Homo sapiens: one gene and its partner. The protein of the gene in region 1 interacts with the protein of each later gene in a pairwise test. Each region holds a gene or a part of one and is shown in the gene's direction. Other genes may lie near its edges.

Region 1 (7,039 bases):
TACAATTCAGAGTTTTAGTGAAATATGTTCTAGAAAAAGTTGCAAGTTATCGAGAGGGCTTCCAGTCTGGCTCAGCATTTCCTGTTTAAAAGACACCTTTCTTTTTGAGGCATCCTTACCCCACCACCATCACTCACCTCACCAACACATCTTTCACAACAGCATTTTTTAACATTGGATTTGTCTTCATTTCCCATTGTGCAACACTGGCTTTGAAAGCCAGGAGAGGCAGGAGGATTTCCTGAAGGTGTGTTTACGTTTCCATAAAACTCCGTGGGTTTTCTTTTGTTTTGTTTTTGTTTCTGTGGTCTAATTAAACCAGAATGGTAAATAAATTTGGACAAACATGCTGGCTTTCATCAGACAAAAATGAAGCAGGAGTCTGTGCCAATTTTGTTGCGTTAGCTCTGAGACCTTGAGATTCTTTCCAGCAGCTGAGGTTTGCAGCCTTAGGTAACCGGTCTCCATGAGTGGGTGGAGATGAGCCTGGGCAGGGTTCAAGCCTGAGAAGCTCAATAAAAGAATCAGTTTTCCCAAAGTGAGAAATGCCGTGTGTATCCATCAAAACAGCAGCCCAGGAACCACCATCTCTCTCAAATGTGAAACTGGAAAAGGGACCGTGAACTTTCCCCACAGATACACAAAAGATACCACCCCTTCACCTGAGCAGCCTCCAAATCAAATTCTTTACACAAGCAACAAAATAAATGGACTACCCCTAGCAAAGCTGGCCACATGCAAACATCCAAATCAGGTGACGTTTCTGTATTCCACACCTGCCTGTCTTTTTGGCCACTACTCTGGGATGCTAGCTGCCTTTCTCTGCCCTTCCCCATAATCACAAACCCCTCTCTCAAGAAAAGGCCTCAGAAGCCCATGCTCAAAAGGATATAAGTGGCTGTAAGGTCTACTGGAAGGATGAAGTTTTAACAGGAGAAGAAGCCTCTAATGTTGAAATTTCAGGCTTTGGTGCCAGGCCAGGGAAAACAATATTTTCTAGGGGATGTTGTTAGGCATTCTCTGAAGCCAACTCTATCCAGCTCCCCCAGTCCAAATGCTGGATGAACGGGGGGAAGCCAGTAGGTCACTGTTGCTTATTAATGACATAAGATTTGAGTTTAAATGATAGAATAGTTTTGTTCTACCAAAATATTATTTTCTGACTCATAAAGTAATTAAAAATAAATCATTCTTGTTCCGGAGCGGTAGTCAAGATTATCAACTTTTTTAAGTTGGCATGAAAAAATCTAAAATACCCTAGAAAGTGGTAATTATTTTCTCACATTAGCAGAATGACATGACTGTTACAGAAAGCAGCAGAAACAAATTCCCAATTTTTAAAAACCCCCTCACAGTACTGGTAATATTTTAGTACTATTATGAAGAAGTTTTCATGTTAACTGCCTATCAAATTCTTCTTGACCTTCTCAGCTACAGTAATTTCGCCTTCATTTTCCAAAAACACCAGCCCATGTTACTATTTATTATAATGTATGGTGTTTTCTTACCACAAATTCAGTGTCTGAATTCATTATTGATCAATTTCCACCACAGTATATGCTGTCAAAGAATTCAGGCCGGGAAAGGAAAGTGATAGCATTCTATCAATAATTCTTTTTTATATAAAATTATTTCAAGAGAGAGTTTTAAAATCAAATACAATTTTTCTGGGACTCATTTTAAAAAGAGACTTATGTCCATAGTCTGCTTGAAATGGAATCAGTAATAACTGCACATAGAATACATCTACTCAACTTCATAGGCTAATTACATCAAATCTTCCAATTCTACATCCTCAGAAAACACTGATCCAAACCATAACATTAAACTGATCTAAAGAATTCCTCTTAGTAAAAAAAATAATTTTCCTTTGTATAGTAATTCACACAGAGTGATTAAAAAGACATGTCTGACACATTTTGTCTATCTCCATTTAGAACCTTTGAAAATTCAATTCTCAAGCCCCCATTATTTGCTTCTGATTATGGCTAGCTAAAATTGTGATTCCTTCTTGTTTTTAAACAGTTAAATAATACAAATATCACTTATTTTATATTTTGTACTATTATTTAATGTCTAAATGATAGACGTTAGATGGCTGGACAACTGAAATGCGGGTCTGACTTATACATGTTGACATATTTTAATCCAATTTATGAATGTTACAATTTTCATGGATATTCCTCGTGAGTTTCAAAATGTTGTTAGAGTGTTCTAATGCCTGTGAAGATCTACATATTGCTATGTACCTGCTTACCAGGCTTGTACCATCCAATAGAATGCTATTTACATGCTTACCAGGCTTGTACCACCCAACAGAATGTTGTTAAGAATAGGAATGTTAAAGGAAGAATGAATATTGTTCTATCTTCTATATTTCATGAAGGTGTCAAGATGTTTTTAAACACATTCCCTTGTCCTGTTTAAGGTTTCAGGCTCTGTATAACTATACTCCCAGGAATGAAGATGAGCTGGAGCTCAGAGAAAGTGATGTCATTGATGTCATGGAAAAGTGTGATGACGGCTGGTTTGTGGGTATGTGCGCTTCTTCCTCAGGCACCTTCGGCTATTTTGTAATTTGCTTGAGTTTGCTCACTCCCGTGGTTTGCTGTGATGGCCGAGCTTCCTTTGAATTCGTAATGCCTTTGATCTTTCAGACATTCATATGCACAATGTAATCCCAAGGCTATTGCATTTTTAATATAGTTTAGTATTCACTGCTTCAGCTATGTGTGATTTTCTGCGAGCTTTATTTCCAACTCAACTGAGAGAAGACAATTTCTTTAAATAGCAAAAACCAGGAAAGATTGAGATCTAAGAACAACAACAACAAATGGTCCCCAGAAGAGAAATATCAACGCTCTGTGCTGTGGAAAATGTTAGTTGTCCACAGTGAGAATCTAATTTCAGAGGGAGTGAGATTAAGTGAACAGCTCTCCCGTTTCCTAGGTCTGACGTAGATGCCCGAACATTCAGTGACTCACCTTAACTTTAGTTTGTGGTGGAAGCAGAGAGACGTTCCATTCTTCCCACTTAAAAGGCAACTTCATCTTTACCATCCTAAAAAAAAAGACGAGAGGTCTTCTGGGAAAACATTTGTAGACAAAAGTATTTTACACTGGGCCACAGAAAGAGGTGAAAAGGAAACACAGGCTGCAGGGCAGAGAATGGAAGAGAGGAAAGGTGAGAGGAGAGGAGGGCTCACTCTAGACATCCATCGGTGGCAAAATCATGAAAGAATTGAGGCCCTGGTGCGGCCACAAGCCTCTGATTTTATTTCCATTAAAAGAAGAAAAAAAGGCCGGGTGCGGTGGCTCATGCCTGTAATTCTAGCACTTTGGGAGGCCGAGGCGGGTGGATTACCTGAGGCCAGGAGTTCGAGGCCAGCCTGGTCAACATGGTGAAACCCCGTATCTACCAAAAGTACAATAATCAGCTGGGCTTGGTGGCAGGTGCCTGTAATCCCAGCCACTCAGGAGGCTAAGGCAGGAGAATTGCTTGAACCCAAGAGGCAGAGGTTGCAGTGAGCCGAGATCATGCCACTGCACTCCAGCCTGGGCGACAAGAGCGAAACTCCATCTCAAAAACAAGGAGGAGGAGGAGGAGGGAGGAGGAGGAGGGAGGAGAAACGTAAAATGGCTTGCCTAGCCAAGGAAAAAGAAAAACAGCCATCAAACCAAGGCAGTAAGTGCCAGGATATAGGAGACAGATGAAGCTTGAGAGACCCTTATCCGGTCCATCTGCGCTGCCTAAAGAAGAATTTAGCAATTTAGTGCACCAACTTTTACAAGAAGTGTCCAAGGAATTACATTATTTGAAACCAGAGGCGAACATAATTATGATAGCCATTTGTGCGTGTGGTTAAACACACACCATGTTAAAAATCATGCCACTGATAGAACTCCCACACACAAATAGTGCTTAATCCTTTTTTTCATTAATGATTTGTAAATTGTTGAAAAATTGTATACTCGATGAAGGACTCTGGCAGTGCTGTTTTTAAATAAATGATGTGGCACTGACCATGATCTTCTGTAAGATGATAAAACTGTTGGAACAGCGACAGCCTGCCACAGATGATGTCTTCATGTCGCACCTGTGTTGCGCGGGTTGCTGGTCCCTGAGAAGCTTTGCTCTTAGGATTTTCCACTCACCCTGTCACCTGTCAGCCTCGCCTTGATCCCTCACCCCCGACTCTGGTGTGGCAGCCTCAGTGACTGAGCTCCTCCGCCCCCCTCCTCAGCAGGGCTGACTTTCCCTTTAGCTTGGGAGGCTCAGCATTTCTGTTTAGCCTGCCGCGATGGCAGCGCAGCATTTATGCCGGAGGGGCAGTGAGAGCGTCAGGCAACCAGCTAACACTGCTTATTTTGTCTGCCTATGGGCTTCATGTGAGTTGCCTGCCTTCTTTTCCAAACCCCTCGGGGCTTGCTGTCTTCCGAGGCCTTGTAAATGGGAAGTATTCAAGCCCATGTGTATGAACTGATATCGTTGTCACCCCCCTTTCATGACTCGCTTCTATTTTCAGGGACCTCAAGAAGAACCAAATTCTTTGGTACTTTCCCCGGAAACTACGTCAAGAGGCTGTGAATTGCGCTCCCTCCTTCTGTAGAGGCCGCCTGCCAGCCATGCACCTGCGTCAACGCGCCTGAAACACCCCGCGGGCCTCCCGTTGTCATGCCTTACGGTTTCCAATGCGCCGTCACCATCTCCACCTGCCACCAAACCACCAGCAGAGTAGCCGCCGCTGCTGTGAGCCTGGGGACGACATGGCAGGCTGGTCCCCCTCCGTGAAAGTGTGGATTCCTACTTCCTGCTCTAAGCTTTGACACGTCAAAATGTGGGATCAGAAAGAAAAAAATCATGATATTTAAAAATGGTCAAATATTTGAGGCAAAAAAAAAAAAAAAAAGTGTCTCCAGGAGGCTGTCCAGCCTCGTGGCTCCATTTCAACATCTCCCCCCAGGCGATGTTCTCCCCCAAGACGACCAGAAAATTGTTTATTGGGGAATGCTGTGGTTTGCATTTTCATATTCTTCGCTTGGCAGTGTGTATTCTTTTCACAAGTTTGCCTAGTGTCTTGGTTTACACAATATGACAACTGTAACTGTACTTTAGCTATTGTTTGCCTGCACATACATGTTGTAATATGCACAGTGATTACAACCTTTAAAGCAAGAGGAGGCGAGTTAATTTGGATGAGTGTGATTTTGCTGATTGAATGTGAGTTTTCAAATAGGAGTCTTTTTCTGCAATTTGTTTGCATTTTTTAGAAGTGCAAACAGTAAGTAAATAAAAGCCTTCGGTAATAATCATGACAATACAAGAGGCTGAGCTAGGCTACAGGGGAAAACTATTGTGTTGTAAAGTTGCATCGCTATTTTATATTAAAATGTAATGATCAGCATCATGAACAATGAGCTCTTAGTGTTTTATTTATCTGAAAAAATGTAAGTAAAAGCAGTGTTAGTGAGAGGTGCAAAGAATTATTCTAACAGACACCTGAAAGTATCTGTAAGCAATACTAGTAGGTAAGATTTCACTGTGTGTACACATACACATTTGAGATTGTATGAGAACATATAATCCATATGATATGTTGTACATTTTATGGAAATGTAATAGAATCTCACACATTATTTTATAGAAATAGAGTACAGAAGCATCACAAGTATTAAAGTTGGTTTTAGCAAGGATTAGGATTACTACAATTATTTTTACTATAATAATTATTTTTCTTCTATGGAACTCAGAATCCTGGCTACATTTGAGGACAGGAATATGTTGAGCCTGATTTTCCTGGTGTGTGTAAAATATTTCCTAGGAATAAATTAGGCACTTTTTAGAAGCAATGTTAAATCATTCAGGTTTTATTTTCTGCCCTGAAGCAGAAATTTAAAAAATGATATTGGGACCTGGAAGGTTTAATATGGTTCACAGTGCCTGAATTACACCTGCTCCGAAAACTAGCTTTGTATTTCTTATGACTTTGCATAAGAACTGTTCATCTTTGGATCTTGAGCACCTTACAGATAAAACTTTTTATGGCATCTCTTTCATGGACAGTGATATTGATCTTTTCACAATGTACGTAGCCTCTAGAATTTTGTACATATGTTTGCTCTTTTTTTGTACAGACTAGTTGTTGAGAAAACAGGGGCGTTTCCTAATTTGGTCTTTATCCTGCGACAACACTTTCAGCAGACTAGCCTCTCCTTATCTCACAGATCACAAGCACCCCTAGATAGTGTGATTCTGTCAGATAGCATTTATGCAAAAATCTATGAAGTTAAAAGATCGTAGAAGCCAAATGAAATGTACATATCTACTGACTGATGACAAGGGAATTTCATTAGGAAGAAGGTAAAGAAACATCGTTGAGTAGCCTACCTTGATTTCTGTCAAGTTCATAACCAGCTTCATATTTTAAAGGCTTCAGGTTTGAAATTAAGTCAACTGCATGCAGCTTTGCTGATAAATGAATAATTCTCTTTGATGCCATTTATGAGAAAAGACTTCAATATCTGTTGCCTGTCATATTTAAGAAAAATTACTGTTTCTACTCTCTGTATCTGATTTTAAAAGAAAAAACTATTCATACCTGGCTTCCAGGTAATTGACTTTGAATTCTTACAAGCAAAGGTCATTGTGTTTTTCTTGAATAGACATCTAATAAATTTTGCTTGGAAGTATACTTCAGTTTTTCTTCTTGACATTTATCTTTATAAAAATTGTGTATTTTATTCCAACTTGTTAAACTAAGAGAAAATGCATTTTGTTGTGTGTTCTTTTAACACAAACATGGAGAAAAGCTGTGTCAGCATCAGCTCAGAGAAGAAATATTTTTAAACCCACCACCAAAGCTCATTTGCTAAACGTTCTTTGGCTAAAAATTGCCCTTCAGTTAAAACAATACATTGTAAAATATTTCTGCCTCAAAACAGCTAGTTTTCCAAGGAGGGGTTAGTTACAAGGAGTTGTAAGCACTTTCCCAGTTCAACACTCTGAAATTTTAAAATCTTTGCCCTAAGCAGCTTCAGCA
Region 2 (7,039 bases), 1.0 Mb from region 1:
GTGGGAAAAGGTAACCCCACTAATAATTATTCAATCCAGAGTAATATAGTCCATAATACATCATATAGTCCATAAATCCATATAGTCATTATCTATTGCAGTCATTTTTCAAACTAAAGATAGCTATAAGTATGTGCTATCATTTCTGATTTCAAGTATATATATATATATATATATATACTTTCAAGTATATATATATATACACACTCTATTCCTAATCAACACAGGTATATTTTGATACCGTATATATGGTATCAAAATATACCTGTGTTGATTAGGAATAGGGTGTATGGACATAGCTTTGCTTGTTAAACCAACAAGATAGAATTATGTCTTTTATCAATTTTAATTCTAAGAAGTTCCTGTTTCCAGTTTATGTAATAATTTATATCTTGGCCCCTAAATGCTCTTTATAAATACATTTCAGAATTTTATCAGCATTTTCTTTCTAGTTCTTGTTGTTGGAACATCAGTCTTCTTAATAATAGTCCCAGGTGGCCGGGCGCAGTGGCTCACGCCTGTAATCCCAGCACTTTGGGAGGTGAAGGCGGGCGGATCACAAGGTTGGGAGATCGAGACCGTCCTGGCAGTGAAACCCCGTCTCTACTAAAAATATAAAAAAAATCAGCCGGGCGTGGTGGTGGGCACCTGTACTCCCAGCTACTGGGGAGGCTGAGGCAGGAGAATGGCCTGAGCCCGGGAGTTGTAGCTTGCAGTGAGCTGAGGTCACGCCACTGCACTCCAGCCTGGGCGACAGAGCGAGACTCTGTCTCAAAAAAAAAAATAGTCCCAAGTGCTTTCAATAAGTTATGGTCAAATTAGTTATGAAAACTAGCTTCCAGATAGTACAATGCAGAGAAAAAACATATATACAGGAGTGTTTTTATTTTACTCATTACCATAATGTAATTATCAGTTGTAAACTGAAAGTCTGCTGAGAGTCTGTTCCTGCGTCGTATTCCCGGTTTTCCAGGGCCATTACAGATTACCACAAACTTTGTGGCCTAAAACAATGTAGACTTGTGTTGCTGTCATTCTGTAGCTTAGAAGCCCAACCCCTGTGTCTCACAGGGCTTAAGTCATGCGATCAGTAGGGCTGCATTGCCTTCTGCAGCTCGAGGGAAGAACCTGTTTTCCTTCCTTTCCTGGTTTTTAGAGGCTGCCCACATTCTTTGGCTCTTGGTTTCTTCCATCTCAGAGACAGCAACACAGTGTTTCATTGACCACCCTTCTGTCAGCAGAGCTCCCCCCAGCCGTAACTGGGAACGCCTCTGTGCAGAAAAGTTACCCTTATGATTACACTGGGCCCACCCAGGTAATCCAGGGAAATCCCTCATCTCAATTTCCTTATCTGAACCGCGTCAACAAAGTCCCTTTTGCCATGTATAGTGACATATTCACAGGCTCCTGGGATTAGGACGTGGACTATTTGAGGGCCAGCCTTCTGCCTACCACATGCGTACATATTTACCTTGGCATAGTTATTTTAAAACAATCTGATACACAAATGAAAAGGGAATTTACACAGGAAACAGACGGACAGAGTCTCCTCCTATACTCGTACATTAGCTCACCAGCGATTAGTCCATCTGCAAACAGACGAGAAATTTGCAGGGAAAGCAATCAGAACAGGGACAAAAACATTCTTGTTTTAGATTGCATATGTTTCTCCTTCAATTTCTTTTTTTTGGGGGACAATGTGTGAGTGATTAAGCAGCCGGAAGAGTGGCGAACCACAGACTGTAGTCTTGGAATGTCGAGTCTTGCCTGTAAGATGTTAAAATAAGAATCGTTTTGGCCTGGCATGATGCATAATTGTAATTGTGAAAAAATTTAAAGCTAAAAGTTTTTTTGTTTAAATTCCAATAAAATATGTTTACGTTATTCCTTTGATTAATAATAACAAATATATAGCTCGATTAAAAAAGTCTCTGAGACACACAGCTAACAGTGAGGAGACCACGCATCATTATGTGGTTGTATTAAAGCACTCATCGGTTGGAATCTGAGGTAGAAATGGTATAATACAAAACTTTATTTCATGCACTGTTTTCTAACTAACTGAAGATGTTCCTAATTGACTGCTTTTGTACCTTTTTGCAAGCTTCCATAGTGACCGTAATGCACCTTGTCAATGCTGTGGTTGACACGGTGAGCACAGAAGGTACAGTTGTAAGTGCTCGTGCTTGTGTCTGTGTCTTGCAGCAGCCGTGTCGTAGAGCTCGGCCGCATTGCTATTGCAATGGTAGGAAAAAACAGTTTGTGGTTTTGAGGGGGTTGAGTCCTTTTATTTTATGCAGGTGTGTATATACGTAATATGAGTGCTTTGCAAAAAATATCTCAATGTATGTTATGTCTTTGTTCCTTTTTACCATTCATAGTGATTTACATGAGATCTGGAGAGCTTATCTGTAGGTGGTGCAATCAAGAAAAAGTTCAGAAGTAATTTTACCTAAAATTTTTTTGAAACAAAAATTCTTCTTCGTATGTACAGGAATAAGACTTGAATAATGTAAAGCTTTCATAATTAACCTGTAACTGACTCTTCACTTTTGGTTTTTCCCTGAGTATGATCAAAGAAAAGGGTGTAGAGCATGGTAAAAGAATATTTTCATATTTGGTTTAGTGAAAATTATTTAATGTGAAGCTTTATCTGCTCAGAGTTGTAAGAAAGGACATTGAGCACCTTCCCCAAATTATTTTAAATTAAAATAGCCCTTTATTAGTGCACTGAAATTCATCACATGGGGAAGACACAGGCTAGTACTTTTCAAACTGTAATGTGAATCAGATCATCTGGAGGGCTGTTAAAAGCCCAATTGCTGGTTCTCAGCACCAGCATTTCTGATCCAACAGGTCTGGGTTGGGACTTTAGAATTTGCATTTTTCACCAGTTCCCAGGTAGCTCTGATGGTGCCGGTCTAGAGATCCCACTCGAGAACTGCTTACAGAGGCCATCGAGTACACAGACGTCATCATAGAGTTCGGGGGATCCTTTATGCTAGGACATGATGCTGTCAAGGTTCAGGAGGAGGGAGGATAGCTCTGGGCCCCATTTGCTATCAGGCAGAAGAGGCTTAGATACTCCAGTGTTCATGGTTATAGTTACTGATGACGCCTACACTTCTTTTCCTAAGAAGTACCATGTTTTCACTGGGCAAATCAGAAACATACCTGTATTTTGTCTAGTGAAGTTTTAGTGTTAAACTGATGACCTTCAGCATTTTAAATATTATTGAAGCTTATAGAAGCAGAATTTCAACAGTTCCTTCATTGCAGTCTCCTTCATTGACAAATATTTTTTGGCATATCCAAGAAGTGCACATGGAATTTAAAGTTGAAAGCTATTACTAGTGCCTACGTAACAAAAGTTGTTGATCTTTTTTTGTTTAAAGGAATTGCTGCTTTTGTTACTAGACTTAAAAATGATTCTGTAGATACATGTTACCTAAATGCCGGCGTATTCATGTTTTAGAGACACCACAGTCTTTTAAAATTACTGAAATTTCTAGAAGTGAACTATCAATCAAATATTTGTCCCAAATTATAACACTGTTGAATGCATAGAAAGCCTTGTTTAAAAAATCACGGATGTGACCGTTTTTCTGCTGTGATGTCTACTTTCACAGTTATTGATAGTTTCTAACAGTGCTTAACCTGCATGATCCTGTTTAATCCTCATAACAACTCTAACGGATTTTCACCCCATTTCAAAGAGAGAACCTGAAGGTTAGCCAGGGCCTGGGCAGGCGTCTCATGGCCCTAACTGATAGTGGGATTTACATGCGTTTGGTTACACTTCCTGCTGGGCTTCTGTGTATAGATGCGGGGCCCTGGCAGGGCAAGTGTAATTACAGACATGGGGTAAGTGTAGCCGTGGTCTCTTTAGGGAATGGCTCACAGTGTCAATATTAAAGCATATTCAAAATACATACAGTTTGGAGAGATCTTCAGCTTGTACATCTGTCTTTAAGTATCTAAGTTTGCCTATGAATTCCTCTGAATTTAATGTCCTTTGAAGTTGCAGTGTGCTATAAAGTGTGTGCATTATGTAGCTGTAGATGTATTTGGATTATCACCTATGTAATCTGATCAGTTTATATTTTATTAGAGCCTGTTTGTTTTGTTTTCATTATTCCTAAGGAAATTCTGTGTTTTCAGGCTGTGATTGTCAGAAACAAGGAAAAGAAAGTAATATTTGAGTTTTCTGGCCAAATTTCTGGTTCCTCATTCCGCAGTCACTTTCCTCCACTTCCATATTCCATTTTATTTGTGGTACATACATTTCTCAGCCATTTGGAATTGTCATAGATACTGGCGTAAGGACATGCTGTATGGCTGATTGGGCCTCTGTAAGCAGTTTTCATTGTTCTGTGTACTTACCTTTATTGCCTTTTCAGCCGACTGTTTTAATTACAAATGTTTTCTTTTTTTTCTACTCTGCCACCAAAAGAATCTTTGGCTGCTCCTGACCTCAGCAAACCAAGAGGTGACTTATGCATGCCAGTTATTCATTGATACTCACTAAAAACAATGGGTCAAGCCTTGCCCCAGTGCTGACTGACTACGCTGGGTCGCCCAGTGTTTGCAGCAGTAACTAAGTACACGGCTGCATGTGTGTGCGCATTGCATTTGAAGCACGGATTGCCTAACCTTCTCCCGCCTCTCCAAGGATTTTTTAAATCCTAAGGAGGAAAAAAAAAAAACTATTCCAAAATTGGAAGTTTTTTTTTAAAATAGTGGTGCTTTATATAGTCTAAAAGGATCACAGTCCTTTTGGAAGTAACACAGATTGATTGTTACAGTGTATCAGAGGCTGTGTTATAATCTTGCAACGCTTGTTCAATTGTATTTTGCTTGAATTGGCATGCTTTGATACATACCTATATTAAGTTAATTTGTTGTCTGAGGGTTAATGAAAAATAGTAATTTTAATATTAAACTTGCTACATTATTATGAAGGAAGCTTATTTTCTAAACTTTAGCATGTTAAAGGTTACTTTTATTACTTTAAAAAGTTGCATTGGCTGGGCCTGATGGCTCACACCTGTAATCCCAGCACTTCGGGAAGCTGAATTGGCAAGATTGTTTGTGGCCAGGAGTTTAAGACCAGCCTGGGCAACATAGTGAGACCCTGTCTCTATAAAAAATAGAAATGCAAAATTTTTTTAAGTTGCATTAATCAGTATTTTTTTAATGAGAAGTAGTGCAGATCAAGTGACACTGGATATTTCACTAATGTCCTGAGACTGGATCAGTACTCTTCTTCCTACAGAGCAGTGGGTTCTACAGAAGAAAAGCCAGAAGGATGGTTAGAATCATTTGTAGAAAAATGTATATAATTTAGATGCTAGCATCCCATTTCTCTTAGGACTCCTTTTGTTTCCTTGAATGTTAGTTGCGTACATAAAACTGTAAGTCCACATTTTAGAACTAGAGCCTAGTTCATAGGGGTCTTTAAACTGGAGTGGGTTGGGGGATGTCTTCAAAGCAAAGACGAGGAATTTCCAGTGGTGAACTTTGAATGAAGGCATAAATGCGGTTGCATCTTTGTGTCTTTGATACACTGAGCTCTCTTTCCATGGCACAAAAGCTTAGGAGAAAACACACTGACATCTGTTTTCTTTTCCACCAAGGGTATCACTGGGATACATCAGATTGGATGCCAAGCGTTCCTCTGCCGGACATACAAGAGTTCCCCAACTATGAGGTGATTGATGAGCAGACACCCCTGTACTCAGCAGATCCAAACGCCATCGATACGGACTATTACCCTGGAGGCTACGACATCGAAAGTGATTTTCCTCCACCCCCAGAAGACTTCCCCGCAGCTGATGAGCTACCACCGTTACCGCCCGAATTCAGCAATCAGTTTGAATCCATCCACCCTCCTAGAGACATGCCTGCCGCGGGTAGCTTGGGTTCTTCATCAAGAAACCGGCAGAGGTTCAACTTGAATCAGTATTTGCCCAATTTTTATCCCCTCGATATGTCTGAACCTCAAACAAAAGGCACTGGTGAGAATAGTACTTGTAGAGAACCCCATGCCCCTTACCCGCCAGGGTATCAAAGACACTTCGAGGCGCCCGCTGTCGAGAGCATGCCCATGTCTGTGTACGCCTCCACCGCCTCCTGCTCTGACGTGTCAGCCTGCTGCGAAGTGGAGTCCGAGGTCATGATGAGTGACTATGAGAGCGGGGACGACGGCCACTTCGAAGAGGTGACGATCCCGCCCCTGGATTCCCAGCAGCACACGGAAGTCTGACTCTCAACTCCCCCCAAAGTGCCTGACTTTAGTGAACCTAGAGGTGATGTGAGTAATCCGCGCTGTTCTTTGCAGCAGTGCTTCCAAGCTTTTTTTGGTGAGCCGAATGGGCATGGCTGCGCTGGATCCTGCGCCTCTGGACGTGCTAGCCATTTCCAGTGTCCCAACTACTGTCATCGTGAGGTTTTCATCGGCTGTGCCATTTCCCAACGTCTTTTGGGATTTACATCTGTCTGTGTTAAAATAATCAAACGAAAAATCAGTCCTGTGTTGTCAGCATGATTCATGTATTTATATAGATTTGATTATTTTAATTTTCCTGTCTCTTTTTTTTGTAAATTTTATGTACAGATTTGATTTTTCATAGTTTTAACTAGATTTCCAAGATATTTTGTGCATTTGTTTCAACTGAATTTTGGTGGTGTCAGTGCCATTATCTAGCACCCTGATTTTTTTTTTTTTACTATAACCAGGGTTTCATTCTGTCTTTTTCCACTGAAGTGTGACATTTTGTTAGTACATTTCAGTGTAGTCATTCATTTCTAGCTGTACATAGGATGAAGGAGAGATCAGATACATGAACATGTCTTACATGGGTTGCTGTATTTAGAATTATAAACATTTTTCATTATTGGAAAGTGTAACGGGGACCTTCTGCATACCTGTTTAGAACCAAAACCACCATGACACAGTTTTTATAGTGTCTGTATATTTGTGATGCAATGGTCTTGTAAAGGTTTTTAATGAAAACTACCATTAGCCAGTCTTTCTTAC

What was found. Proteins that work in one complex are often made in the same cells at the same time.
Region 2: the proteins of SORBS2 (region 1) and FAT1 interact in a two-hybrid assay, tested with the Homo sapiens proteins (one study listed by BioGRID).

The regions. Positions count from the first base shown.
Region 1 is NC_000004.12:185,585,175-185,592,213, reverse strand, and holds the end of SORBS2 (sorbin and SH3 domain-containing protein 2), read left to right. Parts: intron 1-137; exon of another isoform or gene 138-309; intron 310-2,428; coding exon 2,429-2,535; intron 2,536-2,984; exon of another isoform or gene 2,985-3,060; intron 3,061-4,023; exon of another isoform or gene 4,024-4,289; intron 4,290-4,525; coding exon 4,526-4,587; 3' UTR 4,588-6,691; downstream 6,692-7,039. UniProt on the Homo sapiens protein: Adapter protein that plays a role in the assembling of signaling complexes, being a link between ABL kinases and actin cytoskeleton. Can form complex with ABL1 and CBL, thus promoting ubiquitination and degradation of ABL1.
Region 2 is NC_000004.12:186,587,818-186,594,856, reverse strand, and holds part of FAT1 (protocadherin Fat 1 isoform 1 precursor), read left to right. Parts: intron 1-4,453; coding exon of another isoform or gene 4,454-4,489; intron 4,490-5,636; coding exon 5,637-6,265; 3' UTR 6,266-7,039.